Linked DNA regions of Homo sapiens. The protein of the gene in region 4 purifies or fractionates together with the protein of the main gene of each other region. This does not show direct contact. Each region holds a gene or a part of one and is shown on either strand. Other genes may lie near its edges.

Region 1 (3,500 bases), on a different chromosome or scaffold from region 4:
TGTATACTCCTAATTCTTTCCATGCTTTTCATTAATGCCCTTTATTAAAATTTCACTTGAATCTATTCTTTCTTGACAACTTGTAGTTGCTTTTTCATATCCTCAAATGCTTGGCTGCTAATATTCAATTCAGTTTAGACCGTAATGTTAACTGTATCCTTTAGCCCCATGGTTGATTTTTTTTTTTAGGGGGAATAATTTTCATCAGCTGAAATGCTTCGATTCTCACTTTATGTCTTGGCTTTTGTTTTTGTTTTTGAGACAGGGTCTTGCTCTATTGCCCAGGCTGGAGTGCAGTGGCGTGAGCAGAGCTCACTGCAGCCTTGACCTCCGGGCTCAAGCGATCCTCCTGCCTCAGCCACCCAAGTAGCTGGGACTACAGGCATGTGCCACCATGCCTGGCTAATTTTTAAATTTTTTATACAGATGAGGTCTCATTATGTTGCCCAGGCTCGTCTCAAAACTCCTGAGCTCAAAATATCTTCCCACCTTGGCTTCCCAAAGTGCCAGGATCACAAGCATGAGCCACCGCGCCCAGCTGTTGCTGTTTTTTTAATAGTAGTTTAGATTAATATGGTCTACTATTTTCTAATTTTACTGATTTGTTTTTGAACAAGGTTTTCATTCAAGAGCATCTCTTTTATTCTGCCTTCCTCAGTGCAGTTTTTTCTTCTTTTTTTGTGCTTTTCCTCTACTTATCAAGGGATTCTCTCTCCCTTTCCTCTCCTGCCTCTCTTCTTATTGTAGTAAAAAACATAAAATTTACCATCTTAACTGTTTTTATGTACATAGTTCAGTAATGTTAGGTATATTTATATTATTGTGAAAGAGATCTTATAACTTTTTTATTTTGCAGAAGTGAAACTTGGGCTATGTTTCTTTGTATGCCTTGTGACTTATTGTTGTTGGTATTGTTGAGGCTTGGGCATTTGAATAAATACCCAGTTGTTGTCTTTACAGACTGCTTCGTGCAGGGGAAGACCTTCACCAATCAGCCTAGTTAGAGATTTCATGACCTCCCAAACCTGTTCTGGAGATTTGTCTTCTCTGGGGTTATGCATGTGCCTTTAGTTGTTCCCTGAGCCCCTTGTCCCTACTTCTTTTCAGAGCCCATAATCTCTTTCTTCCCCTGGTTTCTTACTGCAGCTCTAACATGCCATGGTGATCACATCTGTTTTCAGTGGCTTCCAAACAAGGCCTTCTTCAGTCCTGTCAGCCTTCCGAGTCACGCAAAACAGAAAATAGTCCCTCAGACAGCCCCCACAGTACCCAGAACATTGGACACATGGTCCCCTCTTTTTTTTCCATCCCAAGAGAAGATCTGTGGTGTGGAAGAAGCCATATTATGTCAGATAGGGAGAGGTGTAGATGGGACCACAAAACATCACAAATTTTCCTTTCCCATTTACTGGAAACCCTTCTTGGTTTCATGCTGGTCTAGGTGCTATATAGTTTCTCATGGAATCTCTACAGTTCTCTCAAAGGTGTTCTGGTCCGTATATTGTTGTTAACTCATTGTTTCTGTGAGAGTGAGAGGCTGAAGTGAAGCTTCCTAGTTCTCCATTTCCAGAATGATGGTGTGGTGTTGAGGGAAGGGAGGAATTTATAATATTGTTCAGAAGAGTTGGCATTCTTCACAGCAGTGTCTCCAAGGAGTACCACCTTTTCTCTATATATCTGATTCTTCTCCAGAAGCATGGCTTCTCTGAGGCTGCCAAGCCTCTTGCTTGTAGTCAAGTGCTGAGAACTGTCAAAATCATGACCCATGTTCCTTATTTGACATTTAATTGGAGTTTTTATTTTGGGGTTTTTTTATGCTTCATCTAATTCTTCCATGCCCCTTGATTTTTTTTTTTTTAACCAAATCTATTAAGCCTCCTCTCCCTTGCTTTCCCTACTCACAGGCTTGCAGCAGTTTACAATAGTGGGAGTTACACTTATTTATTTAATTACAGGTCATTTGAAAATTTTTGTAATAGCCCTTGTCTCTTAGTAATGCCGAAGGTATGGCTCATATGTATTTTATTTTTATTCTTTTTATTGATTCTGTGGTTCTTTGGGGAAGGTGTGTGGTTTCACCATTTTCCTGCAGACCTGGAAGTCAGCCCCATATTACCTTTCAGTATGCGTAAAAAGACAACTACTGTTTATATTATTGTGGCTCATATCCAGGAGCCACAATAGAGTATGAGGTTCCTACCTTATCCAGGCTGTGCTGTTCTCTACAGGTTCTTGAGCAGGCCAGAGTGGAAATCCCCCTGTTTCCCTTCAGCATTGTTCAGTTCTCTTTTAAGGCCTTTTCACCTGTCCTCACTGAGGAGATGAACAAAAGGGTAAGTGAATGGGTTCTGCTGAATGATTTATTTAGTGACTTATTATAACCTCTCATCATTAAGGAAAGTAATACATGCTTTATTTAATTTGTTGTGTTTTTCTCTAGATTTTTACTATCTGCATATTAACATTTAAAAATATTTTTATGAAAATGGGAATCAGACTATGCATACTGTTTTGCAACTTTATTTTTTCATTTAACAGTATATCATACATCTTTCTGTATCACTACATATCTTATTTCCCTTGTTTTTAATGGCTACATAGTATTCTGCTATATGATATACCTATTAACATTTGTGCTTTATACATTTTTGCTATTACAAATAATACTTCAGTGAACATCCTTGGACATTTGGCAAGTATTTATATCAAAAAAATCTTTGGTGAATAATCCCATGCATTGACTCATGATTTCAGTTCTCTTTCCATATTCATTCCCATACTATATTCTGTTGTTTTTCCTACAGATGAGGATCAAGTGGACAGAGATATCAACTGTCTATGCTGGGCCATTTAGCAAAAATTGCAATCTCAGGGCTCTGAAGAGGCTGTTTAAAAGCTTTGGCCCAGTCCAGTCAATGACTTTTGTTCTTGAAACCCGTCAGGTAAGACCGGAAAATTCAGATTTCATTTTCTAGATTAGTGTTAGACATTCAGGTGACTGCTTGGGCCATGCAGATAGCAAATATTCGTAAAGTAAGCTTGATTGCTACCAACTGGAGTGTGAGACATACTCTAATGAGAGCAGTTGTTGACCCACAAGAATGTATACCCAGTATTGTGAGATCTTTTGTTGTGTGTGTTTAAAGAATTGAGAAATCTGGCTGGGCGCAGTGGCCTATACCTGTAATCCCAGCACTTTGGGAGTTTGAGGAGGGAGGATTGCTTGAGCCCAGGAGTTCAAGACCAGCCTGGGCTCAAGCAATGTGAGACCACATTGCTACAAACAATTTAAAAACAAGAATTAAGAAATCTGTCAGTTTTCATATGTTGGCTCCCATTTCTCAAATACCAGGCCATACGAAAAAATATGTCTGCTGGTTGAATATAACCTGTGGTCCTTATGATTGTACCTCAGCTTTAAATGATAAAATACTCTTTCAAAAAGAGAAGTAACTTTCATATCTTAGAAAGTTACTTCTTTTTTTACATTACAGAGTAGG
Region 2 (3,500 bases), on a different chromosome or scaffold from region 4:
AATATATGTGTGAATAACATCTATTTCTCATCTCTCTGGAGATGTACAAAAAAAGGAATTTCTGGCCAGGCGTGGTGGCTCATGCCTGTAATCCCAGCACTTTGAGAGGCCGAGGCGGGCAGATCATGAGGTCAGGAGTTGGAGATCAGCCTGGCCAACATAGAGAAACCCTGCCTTTACTAAAAATACAAAAATCAGCTGGGTGTGGTGGCGCGTGCCTGTAATCCCAGCTACTCAGGAGGCTGAGGCAGGAGAATCACTTGAATCCCAGAGGCAGAGGTTGCAGTGAGCCAAGATTGCACTACTGCACTCCAGCCTGGTGACAGAGCAAGACTCCATCTCAAAAAAAAAATTTCTACAAATATTTTTTGGGTTCCTTCTACCTACTTCCCTTTTCTAAAATTCAACGCTTGTCTTTTTTGCTTTGTTCAGATGGTTCTTTGGTGTCGCTGTCCCTAACGTCACATACTGGTTGGGTGACATCAGTAAAATGGTCTCCTACCCATGAACAGCAGCTGATTTCAGGATCTTTAGATAACATTGTTAAGCTGTGGGATACAAGAAGGTAAATTCTATTTATGATCTATAAGAGAAACATATCAATTACCTGTTATAGAAAGGAAATGAATACTGAAATTCTTATCTAAAACCAGAAGAGTAAAAAAAGCCTCATGGTTTTGCAACCTCATGTGACAAATACTGATATGCAAAAGAAAAGCCAGGATCAAAAAAATTTTTGGCCAGGCACAGTGGCTCACACCTGTAATCCCAGCACTTTGGAAGGCTGAGGCAGGCAGATCACCTGAGGCTGGGTGTTCAGGACCATCCTGGCCAACATGGTGAAACTCTGTCTCTAATAAAAATACAAAAATTAGCCGGGCATGATGGCGCACTCCTGTAATCCCAACTACACAGGAGGCTGAGGCAGGAGAATCGCTCGAACCCAGGAGGCGGAGGTTGCAGTGAGCCGAGATTGCATCAGTGCACTCCAGCCTGGGCAACAGACCAAGACTCCATCTCAAAAAGAAAAAGAAATTCATGTTAATATGTTGTTTTGTTGCATATAGATAGCTAGACAAACAGTATATAAGGCCATAGTTTGGGGGTTAAAGTAGTCAAGGAAGTGTGAAAATGGGCCTAATTATAAATAAATTCTTAAAATGAAATAACATTTTTTTCTGAATATATTTGTTATAATAAATGTCTGTGGTCTACCAATGATACAGGAAAAAGAGGAGAGATGATCAAATAAACAGAATTTTAAGATTAAGTGGTTATTGGGGCAAGGTTGGTAAACCCTGTAAAGTTTTCAGATAAGTATAAGTGATTATTCAAATGTTTGTTTTAACACTGTGAATGCATATAATATGTTAATATTTTCATCTTTTAGTTGTAAGGCTCCTCTCTATGATCTGGCTGCTCATGAAGACAAAGTTCTGAGTGTAGACTGGACAGACACAGGGGTAAGAATTTATTAGTTATTTGATGAAGAGGAAAGTGACTAGAATAAATCTGGTGTTTGTGTTTATAAAATGTATTAGTTTCGGGCCGGGTGCAGTGGCTCACGCCTGTAATCGCAGCACTTTGGGAGGCCAAGGTGGGCAGATCACGAGGTCAGGAGATCGAGGCCATCCTGACTAACAAGGTGGAACCCCGTCTCTACTAAAAACACAAAAAATTAGCCGGGCATGGTGGCGGGCGCCTGTAGTTCCAGCTACTTGGGAGGCTGAAGCAGGAGAATGGCGTGATCCAAGGAGGCGGAGCTTGCAGTGAGCTGAGATCGAGCCACTGCACTCCAGCCTGGGAGATAGACTCCATCTCAAGAAAAAAAAAACATTTATTAGTTTCAATATATTTGATATTTATAATTCTGTATTATTTCACTTAATATTATTTATAAAATGTCACCTCTCATTCAAAGAAGAAACAAATTTGTCCTTTAATAGGCCAGGCATGGTGGCTTATGCCTGTAATCCTACCACTTTGGGAGGGAAAGGGGGAAGATTCTTTGAGCCCAGGAGTTCAAAACCAGCCTAGGCAACATAGTGAGATGATGTCTCTACAAAAATTAAAAAATTAGTTATCCATGGTGGTGTGACCTACTTGAGCCTACTTGAGCCTGAAGCAGGAGGATCACTTGTGCCTGGGAGGTCGAGGATGCAATGAACTATGATCGCGCCACTGCACTCTAGCCTGGGTAACAGAGTGATACCCTGTCTCAAAATAATAATAATACTAGGAATAGTAAATTTGAAATTTTGGAGCATTTTTTTTTCTTGTGAGTATAGTGGGTTTTTTGTTGTTTTTGCTGTTGTTGTTTTAAGAAACAAGGTCCTTTATTGCCCAGGCTGGAATGTTAGTGGTGCGGTCGTGACTCACTGCAGCCTTGAACTCCTGGGTTCAAGCAATCCTCCCGCCCCCATGTGTATCTTCTTTATTTATTTTTAGAGATTGAGGCTTGAACTCCTGGGCTTAGGTGATCCTCTTGCCCTAGCCTTCTGAGTAGCAGGGACTACAGGTGGGTGCCACCATATCTGGCAAATTTTTAAATTTTTTGTAGAGACGTGGTCTCACTGTGTTCCCCAAGGTAGTCTTGAACTCCTGGCCTCAAGCAGTTCTCCCGCCTCAGCCTCCCAGAGTGTTAGAATTACAGGTGTGAGCCACTGTGCCTAGCCCCCACGAGTATCTTCATGAAACATTTTACCTCCAAAAACTCACTACTTAAGACTAATTGGATCAAAGTGTTTACCAGTTGGAAAAATCTTGCATAAGTCTGCATTATAAAATGTGTTTAAAGAATTACAATTTAATTATTTTTATGTATATACGTAAGCTCTTACTGCCTAAGAATTCTTTCCAAATATAAGGCCTAGGGCTACTTGAATAATTTGTAATATACAATTAATGTGTTGTCCTTTAAAAATTTTTAATTTTCTTTAATAGGTAAAACTGTATCCCTTTCAAACTTATGTATCTTGGCAGATGCTTTATAGAAAGTGCAACAGCATATTATGTCTCAACCAAATTTAAATGATAGCTTTTAATGTTTTAATAAACTGTATCATAGTATAGTAGTGAAACAACGTTGGTCCCTTTACTCACTCTCAATGCAAGTTAACTGCTCACCCATAATTCCTTTTGTAATGAAAATCATTAGTATTTAATTAGGTTTAGCTATGATGTGAAATAATTATATTTATTTATGTTTTCTTGTCTTTTTCTCTCCTTTTACACAGCTACTTCTGAGTGGAGGAGCAGACAATAAATTGTATTCCTACAGATATTCACCTACCACTTCCCATGTTGGGGCATGAAAGTGAACAATAATTTGACTATAGAGATTATTTCTGTAAATGAAATTGGTAGAGAACCATGAAATTACATAGATGCAGATGCAGAAAGCAGCCTTTTGAAGTTTATATAATGTTTTCACCCTTCATAACAGCTAACGTATCACTTTTTCTTATTTTGTATTTATAATAAGATAGGTTGTGTTTATA
Region 3 (3,500 bases), on a different chromosome or scaffold from region 4:
ATATCTGTTCGGTATACTGATTTCTTTTTTTTGGATTCATGCCTGGCAGTGGGTGGGATTGATGGATTATATAGTAGTTCCATTTTTAGTTTTAGTTTTTTGAGGAACTTCCAAACTTTTCTCCATAGTGGTTGTGCTAATTTACATTCCCACCAAGAGTGTATGAGAGTTCCCTTTTCTCTACATCCTTGCCAGCATTGTTACTGCCTGTCTTTTGGATAAAAGCCTTTTTAACTAGGATGAGATGATATCTCATTGTAATTTTGATTTACATTTCCCTGATGATCAATGATGTTGAGCACCTTTTCATATACCTGTTTGCCATTTGTATGTCTTCTTTTGAGAAATGTCTATTCATATCTTTTGCCCATTTTTTAATGGGATTATTAAATTTAGAAGGCTCATTTAAAGTAGATAGGAGTGCCATTCTGTGCAGTGTGTACATTTATATAGCAAGATTTACTAGGGTCTTTTTTTGTTTTTTTTTTTGAGACGGAGTTTCACACTTGTTGCCCAGGCTGGAGTTCAGTGGCGATTTCTGCTCTGCTCATTGCAATCTCTGCTCTGCTCATTGCAATCTCTGCCTACGGGATTCAAGTGATTCTCCTGCCTCAGCTTCCCAAGTAGCTAGGATTACAGGCATGTGCCACCACGCCTCACTAATTTTTTGTATTTTTCGTAGAGATGGGGTTTCACCATGTTGGCCAGGCTGGTTTTGAACTCCTTGCCTCAAGCAATCCACCCGTCTCGGCCTCCCAAAGTGCTAAGATTACAGGTGTGAGCCACCGCGCTCAGCCAAGATTTACGAGTTTTAATGGGTCAGGAAGAATTGTAAGTTCTACTAGGAAAGATGCTAAGATTGTTTTATTCATAGTTGAATCCTCAGCACTTCAAATAGTGCCTGGCACTTAGTTGACTTTTTTTTTTTTTAAATAAAAAGAGGAGATGGAGAAAGAGAGCAAGACGCAGACAGTGAGCAGAAAGAGAAGTTAGAATGATCTGTTGTTGGGATTTTGTTAGATGTGAGTGCCTGAAGTGTTGAAAGAAAAATAGTTGAGGATATTGGCAAGAGTGTGGTTGAAGTGATAATCTTGCAGTCTAAGTGAGGGAGTGAAGACAGAACACACAGGTAGATAGAAAGTGGAGTGGTCAGTGGATTGAAAGGTTACATAATTGGTTAAGGAAGAAGTGCTGTGGAAGTAACTGAATGGGAGCTGGAAGGATAAAAGCTTGTGGTCAGAGAGAGGGGTGAGCACTAGGGTTTGGAATGTGGCCATTAGAGAGGCTGGCTGAAATGGAATACGAAGTGAAAGTAATTGGAGATGAGAAGGAGCTGAGGGGCTAAGTCATTGGTTTCCAAACGTCCTGAAAGGCATTTCAGAGTATGTGGAGACATTTAGTTTTTGGTTGTTACAATAACCTGGGAATGCTATTGGCATTTAGATTGCAGGAGTCAGAGATGCTAGCATTTTTCCAGACTCAGAACATCCCAGTACGACAAAGAATTGTTTGCCTAGCATATCAGTAGTTCTTCCATTTAGAAGCACTGGGCTCAGCTGTGAGCCATGGCCCACTCCCTGTAATCCCAGCATTTTGGGAGGCTGGAGTGGGAGGATTGCTTCAGAAAGCGTAAGCTTTTCCTGTTTAAACCCAAAATGCAGAGAGTTCTACATCTCTGATACTTGTTTCTAATTTTTCTTTGTGTGTGTGTGTGTGTGGTACAGGTAAAAGGATTGAGAGGGAAGAAGAGGAAGAAGAAGAAGCCCTTCCTTTAGATATGATGGATGAAGATGACTTACAGTTAATGAAGGATTTAGGACAAAGAGTATCTTTTCTAACAAGAGATCTTTCTTCTAGGTAATACTTCATTTGGGTTATAATCATTCATATCCATTTAGTGTTAAAAACTTGGTTCTGAATTTCACTTAGGTGGTTCAAGGTGTTCACCTTTGAGCACAATGTTTACAAAGAATAAAGTATTATTTAGCTTATTTCCTAAATAAAGGAGGTTCATGTATAAGATAAGCTGATTTCATTTAATGTACATCTTTCTTTTGAGTCTGAATAGTCAAGTAGAGTGAATGGGGGAAGAATGCTGTTCTCACTTTGAGGTAGTGGCAGAACAGTTCTGAGTTCCTACGGCTATGATTTCACTTAATCCTCATTACCCTGCTGGTAGGTCTTATTCCCATTTCCAGAGAGGAAACTGATGGTTCCCTGCAGTCACAAGTATCTGGAATTTAAAGTTGGACCTTTTAAACTCCAAAGTCTATGCTATACTCTAAAGATTTTGGGAAAGTAAGAGTCACACTTGGTTTTATGAACTGTTCTTCATAAAGAATCTGCTGTAACTTTCACCTTTATTTTGCATCTAGAGGGAAAACTGGATGTAGCCAAAGTTTGAGTTTGTATGGTAGGTTGTTTACCCATTTCTTTTATTCATTTGCTGTTTGAGTGCCTGCTATGTGCCAGACACTAGCCTAAGTGCTACTATCCATATACCTATTGAAAGTTGGCTGGTGGTTTTTCTGTACTTTTGAAATGATAGGTCTCTAGATAACTTTTTAGATCTATTAAGACTGAAAATTGATCTTTTTTTCCCCTGCAGTGAGCCTGTTCATGCGAAGAAACGGAAGCATGAACGCATTATAGATAAATATGAAAAAATACCAAGAACTCTGCAAACTGCACCAGAGAAGGAACTGATTCATTTACTTCCTATCAAAGATAAAAGTGGTATAATCCCACAGACTAGGGAGAAGCCAGGTGAGTCTAATAAACTGGTAATATTAGTTGAACTTTTACCCCCTTACTGATATCATGTTTTTTTTTCACTCAAAATTTAATTTTACTTTGATTTTACCCATATCTAGAAAATATTCAATTAGTCTTATAGCAAGCTTGATGATTTGGGCCAGAATTATAGATTATCTCAGGTACCAATTTGTACTGTGAGGACAACTGAAGCTACAAGGTTCAGGTGATTTTCTTTTCACTAAATTTTGTTGTTTCTAAAATTAGAGCATATTAACTGTTCTTGATTAGCTTTCTTTTTTAATGTATCTTCTTTTGTATGTGAAATAAAACAGAAAAGTTCAGATATCAAAGATGTGAAGTTACATGGTTTATAACAAAGCGCATACCTATAAAACTACTATTCAGACAAGGAAAAAAAACTACTGCTAGCTTCCAGAATCCTCCCTTGTGCTCACCTCAATCACTAATTGTGCTCTTCCCATAAAAGTAACTGCTATCCTGAGTTTTATCGTAATCACCTCCTAGCATTTCTTTACAGTTTTTACCACTTAAGTATATATCACAGTTTTAATACATATGTTTTCCATATAGTTACTGATAGTAACAAAGATGAAGAGGATCAAGAAGAAGAGAGGGAACTTGAGGAAGGTAATATGTCTTTACAGTTACTAAATTGTTAATTGAGAATTTTTTTGCATAATAGTAAATGTGAGTTAATTTTAGATGAAATCTGGAAGGTACAT
Region 4 (4,300 bases):
ACACCATGGTTCTATGGATGTAGGTAGGCAGTCCCAATTATTAAAAATGGTCACAGAGACATGGCACAGGTGAAGACATCTGGAGAGTCACTAAAAGCAAGACCTGGAGATTGTGGGTTTGAAATTCAGTTTCTGAGGCCAGGCTCGATGGCTCATGCCCACAGTCTCAGTGCTTTGGGAGGCCAAAGCAGGAGAGTCTCTTGAGGCCAGGAGTTCATGAGTCTATAGCTATGCAGGAGGATCGAACCGAAGAGTTCAAGGCTGTAGTGAGCTATGATCACACCACTGCATTCTGAGCCTGGGTGACAGAGCAAGACCTTGATTTAAAAAAAGAAATTCAGGGGCTGGGCGCCGTGGCTCACGCCTATAATCCTAGCACTTTGGGAGGCTGAGGTGGGAAGACACGTCAAGAGTTCAAGGCCAGCCTGGGCAACATACTGAGTCCTCGTTTCTACAAAATATACAAAAATTGGCCAGGTGCGGTGGCTCACGCCTGTAGTCCCAGCACTTTGGGAGGCCAAGGCGGGCGGATCACGAGGTCAGGAGTTTGAGACCAGCCTGGCCAACATGGTGAAACCCTGTTTCTACTAAAGATACAAAAAATTAGCTGGGCGTGGTGGCATGCGCCTCTAGTCCCATCTACTCGGTAGGCTGAGGCAGGAAAATCTCTTGAACCCGGGAGACGGAGGTTGCAGTGAGCCGAGATCGCACCATTGCACTCCAGCCAGGGCGAGACTCCGTCTCAATAAATAAATAAAAATTAGCCAGGCGTGGTGCCGCGTGCCTGTAGTTCCAGCTACTCGGAGGATCGCTTGAGCCGAGCGGTGATCGTGCCACTGCACTCCAGCCTGCGCGACAGCGCAAGACCCTGTCTCAAAACAAAGCAAAACAAAAAAGAAAAAAAAATTCTTGGTAACTGAGCACTGCTTGTCCAGCCCATTGAGTTTCTGTAGACAAATTGTAGGAACTGGCACAGCAAACTGGCCACAAAGACGTTAGGGGCGTGGACACCAGCTGCTTGAGCTGCCTGCTGTCCCAGACTCCCGTATGTCATCGCGCAGCGTGGGATTTTGCGGCTTCCTGACAGCCCAGGCTGTCGCTTGACTTGATCTTGGGTTTCACCAAGCCACGAAGGACTAGCGTCCCTCTCTCCTATCCCAAGGGCATTAAGCCTGTCTGGATGAAGTAGGAGAGGAAAGATTTACACGCAGTTCTCAACTTTACGTGACGTGACTAGGGAGGGAATTGACGGTCGCACCGTCTACCTAGCCCAAACGGGGTCACAGCAGGACAAGGAAGTAGCCGATCTCCCAGATGCGGTCTCTTCGCTCCGCTCCACCCGCACCAGCAGCGGCCCACCCACCTCTCCTGTAAGAGGAAGAACGTCCCGGAGACACTTCCGGCCCCGCCCCCCGAGGCGGAAGCGGAGTGCCAGGCTACTCCTCCCGCAGTGTGGGTGGTTCCGAGGCTGACTACCCTGCGGCGGCGCGGCTCGCAGTCCTTCTCAGCATGGACCGCACTTGTGAGGAGAGGCCCGCTGAGGATGGGAGCGACGAGGAGGACCCAGACTCCATGGAAGCCCCAACCCGGATCCGGGACACTCCGGAAGACATCGTGCTGGAAGCTCCGGCTAGTGGGCTGGCGTTCCATCCGGCCCGTGACCTACTGGCTGCAGGGGACGTGGACGGGGACGTGTTCGTGTGAGAGCGGGGCAGGGCCGGGGCGCCGGGTCTGGAAGCTTCCCGGGGGTGGACCTGGGAACAGGAGAGATGAGAGAAAGTTGCAGGGAGACAAATTTTGCAAGATTCTTTGGGTCCAATTTATTCAGTAACATTCGGCTCTTCTATCACACCAATCTGTTGAAAGAACTGGAATGTCGTGACAGAGCCCAGATACCGTAGTAGGCCAAAAAGCCCTTTAAGGCCTTGTTATTTCCCACCGATTATTATTTATTTACTTACCTATTTATTTTTGAGACGGAGTCTCGCTCTGTCGCCGAGGCTGGAGTGCAGTGGCGCGATCTGGGCTCACTGCAACCTCCCCCTTCCGGGTTCAAGCAGTTCTCTTCCTCAGCCTCCCGAGTAGCTGGGATTATAAGCGCCCGCCACCACGCCCGGCTAATTTTTTTTGTATTTGTAGTAGAGACGGGGTTTCACCATCTTGGCCAGGCTGGTCTTGAACTCCTGACCTCGTGATCCACCTGCCTTCCTCCCAGAGTGCTGGGATTACAGGCGTAAACCACCGTGCCCGGACTCCTACCGGATTATTATATTGTGCCCGAGACAGGCTCAGCAGGCCCCTTTAAGTGATTTTTCAAACCACAAATCTTGGCTCACGCCTGTAATACCCGCACTTTGGGAGGCCGAGGTGGGCGGGTCACCTGAGGTTGGAGCTCGAGACCAGCCTGTTCAACATGGTGAAACCCCGTCTCTACTAAAAATACAAAAATTAGCCCGGTGTGGTGGCGCGGGCCTGTAATCCCAGCTACACGGGAGGCTGAGGCAGAAGAATCACTTGGATTCGGGCGGTGGAGGTTGCAGTGAGCCAAGATCGTGCCACTGCACTCCAGCTTGGACAATAGAGTGAGACACTCCCTTGATTAAAACCCTTCAATGGTCTGCTTTTAGGATTTAGTACAAATTTCTCAATCCTGCCTTCAACGCCCTGACCATCTGTGCTCATTCATCCATACCTTTTAAAAATACGTCTTGGGCCGGGCGTGGTGGCTCATGCCTGTAATCCCAGCACTTTGGGAGACCAAGGTGGGGTATCACCTGAGGTCAGGAGTTGGAGACCAGCCTGGCCAACATGGTGAAATCCTGTCTCTACTAAAAATAGAAAAATTAGCTGGGTGTGGTGGCGGGCACCTGTAATCCCAGCTTCTCGGGAGGCTGAGGCAGGAGAATCGCTTGAACCTGGGAGGTGGAGGTGGCAGTGAGCCGAGATCGTGCCATTGCACTCCAGCCTGGGCAACAAGAGCAAAACTCCATCTCAAAAAAAAATCTCGAAACCTCAGCCCATTTGCATGTGCTATTCTGTCCGGAAAACTCCTTTCCCCTCACTTTTACCTACTATCTCTGAGTTTCCAGGATCTCTTCCCTCTTCCTCTCTCCCCAGACTAAAATTGGTTACCTGTTAGATGCTGCCATGGCACCAGGTGCCATGGTACCTTTCCCTTAATAATGAATGGTTGGTAACCATATGTCCATTTGTGTAATTATTTGAATGCTGTCTCCTTCACTAATGTTTTTCAAACGTCTTTGACCTTGCCTCACAGAGAAATACCTTTTACATTATATATGATGCTCTGTGATACAATTGCTGATTTTATTCTATTATTGTGTACATGTACACAAAATGCTGATCGTAGCTTACTAGTCCGTTATATGACTAGAATGTGAAAAAACACTGTTCTGGAGTGTAATCTGTCATCGGTTTTGTTCTCTATTTTATCTCCAACCTCTAGTCTAGGGTAGATGCTCAACACATGTTTGATTTTGAACAAAAGATACAGGTTAGAGGCAGTGGAAAAGTTGAAGATGTTATGCTTATCAGATTTACTTAATGAATTTAAACCTCAACCCCTCATTAGCTGTAATGGCCTTGAGCGTGTTAACTTCTGTATTTTCATCTTTGAAAGGGGGAATTATACCTACCCTTGCAGAGGGGACAAGTTTGCAGTACAGCACCTAAGCAGCTCTTCAACAAATGTAGGTTCCCTTCTACTACTATCCATATTTATGGTGCCAGGCACTTGGGAGTTGCCCTAGACATCCACCTTTCTTCACATTCCACACAACTTTGTTGCTTCCCTTGTCTTAAAAAAGGTTCTGGAGGAAAATTCTTGGTTCTCCCCTTCCCCACCCTCAGCCATGACTATTGTGAAAAGGTTCCTTTTCCGAGGATTAAATTCAAACTTCTGCTTGGCTCATGTGGTCTCATGCCCACCCCAGCCCATCTTTCTAGATTCAGTCATGCTACTCTCCTGCTACAAGGAACCCTCCTCATTCCTTATCTCTGCTGCCTCCAGTATCTGGCCCTTGCTCTCTGCCAGGCAAATTCTACTCTTGTATGATCCAACCCACATGTCACCACCTTAGCTTTCCAGGGCTCTCTTCTCCCTTCCCAAGTATTCATTCAATTTGTGAATGTTTATTAAGCTACTTTTTCACGTTCAGCACTGGGATAGAGAAAATGAGCAGGCTCAGTTCTGCCTACCTGGAACTCACTGGCAATTAAGCATGTATTCATTCTGCCCTTTTTGAGGATCTGCTCTGAGGCAGGCACTTGGGGGTATTCC

What was found.
Region 1: the proteins of WDR55 (region 4) and REXO5 purify together in Homo sapiens (affinity purification with mass spectrometry; 2 studies listed by BioGRID and IntAct, with this or other methods). This does not show direct contact.
Region 2: the proteins of WDR55 (region 4) and WDR12 purify together in Homo sapiens (affinity purification with mass spectrometry; 2 studies listed by BioGRID and IntAct, with this or other methods). This does not show direct contact.
Region 3: the proteins of WDR55 (region 4) and NOC3L purify together in Homo sapiens (affinity purification with mass spectrometry; 2 studies listed by BioGRID and IntAct, with this or other methods). This does not show direct contact.

The regions. Positions count from the first base shown.
Region 1 is NC_000016.10:20,837,527-20,841,026, forward strand, and holds part of REXO5 (RNA exonuclease 5), read left to right. Parts: intron 1-2,200; exon of another isoform or gene 2,201-2,228; coding exon 2,229-2,333; intron 2,334-2,804; coding exon 2,805-2,942; intron 2,943-3,500.
Region 2 is NC_000002.12:202,880,674-202,884,173, reverse strand, and holds part of WDR12 (ribosome biogenesis protein WDR12), read left to right. Parts: intron 1-432; coding exon 433-565; intron 566-1,390; coding exon 1,391-1,463; intron 1,464-3,236; coding exon 3,237-3,314; 3' UTR 3,315-3,500.
Region 3 is NC_000010.11:94,356,440-94,359,939, reverse strand, and holds part of NOC3L (nucleolar complex protein 3 homolog), read left to right. Parts: intron 1-1,724; coding exon 1,725-1,857; intron 1,858-2,608; coding exon 2,609-2,766; intron 2,767-3,348; coding exon 3,349-3,405; intron 3,406-3,500. UniProt on the Homo sapiens protein: May be required for adipogenesis.
Region 4 is NC_000005.10:140,663,404-140,667,703, forward strand, and holds the start of WDR55 (WD repeat-containing protein 55), read left to right. Parts: upstream 1-1,500; 5' UTR 1,501-1,509; coding exon 1,510-1,700; exon of another isoform or gene 1,701-1,754; intron 1,755-1,961; exon of another isoform or gene 1,962-2,034; intron 2,035-3,640; exon of another isoform or gene 3,641-3,710; intron 3,711-4,300. UniProt on the Homo sapiens protein: Nucleolar protein that acts as a modulator of rRNA synthesis. Plays a central role during organogenesis.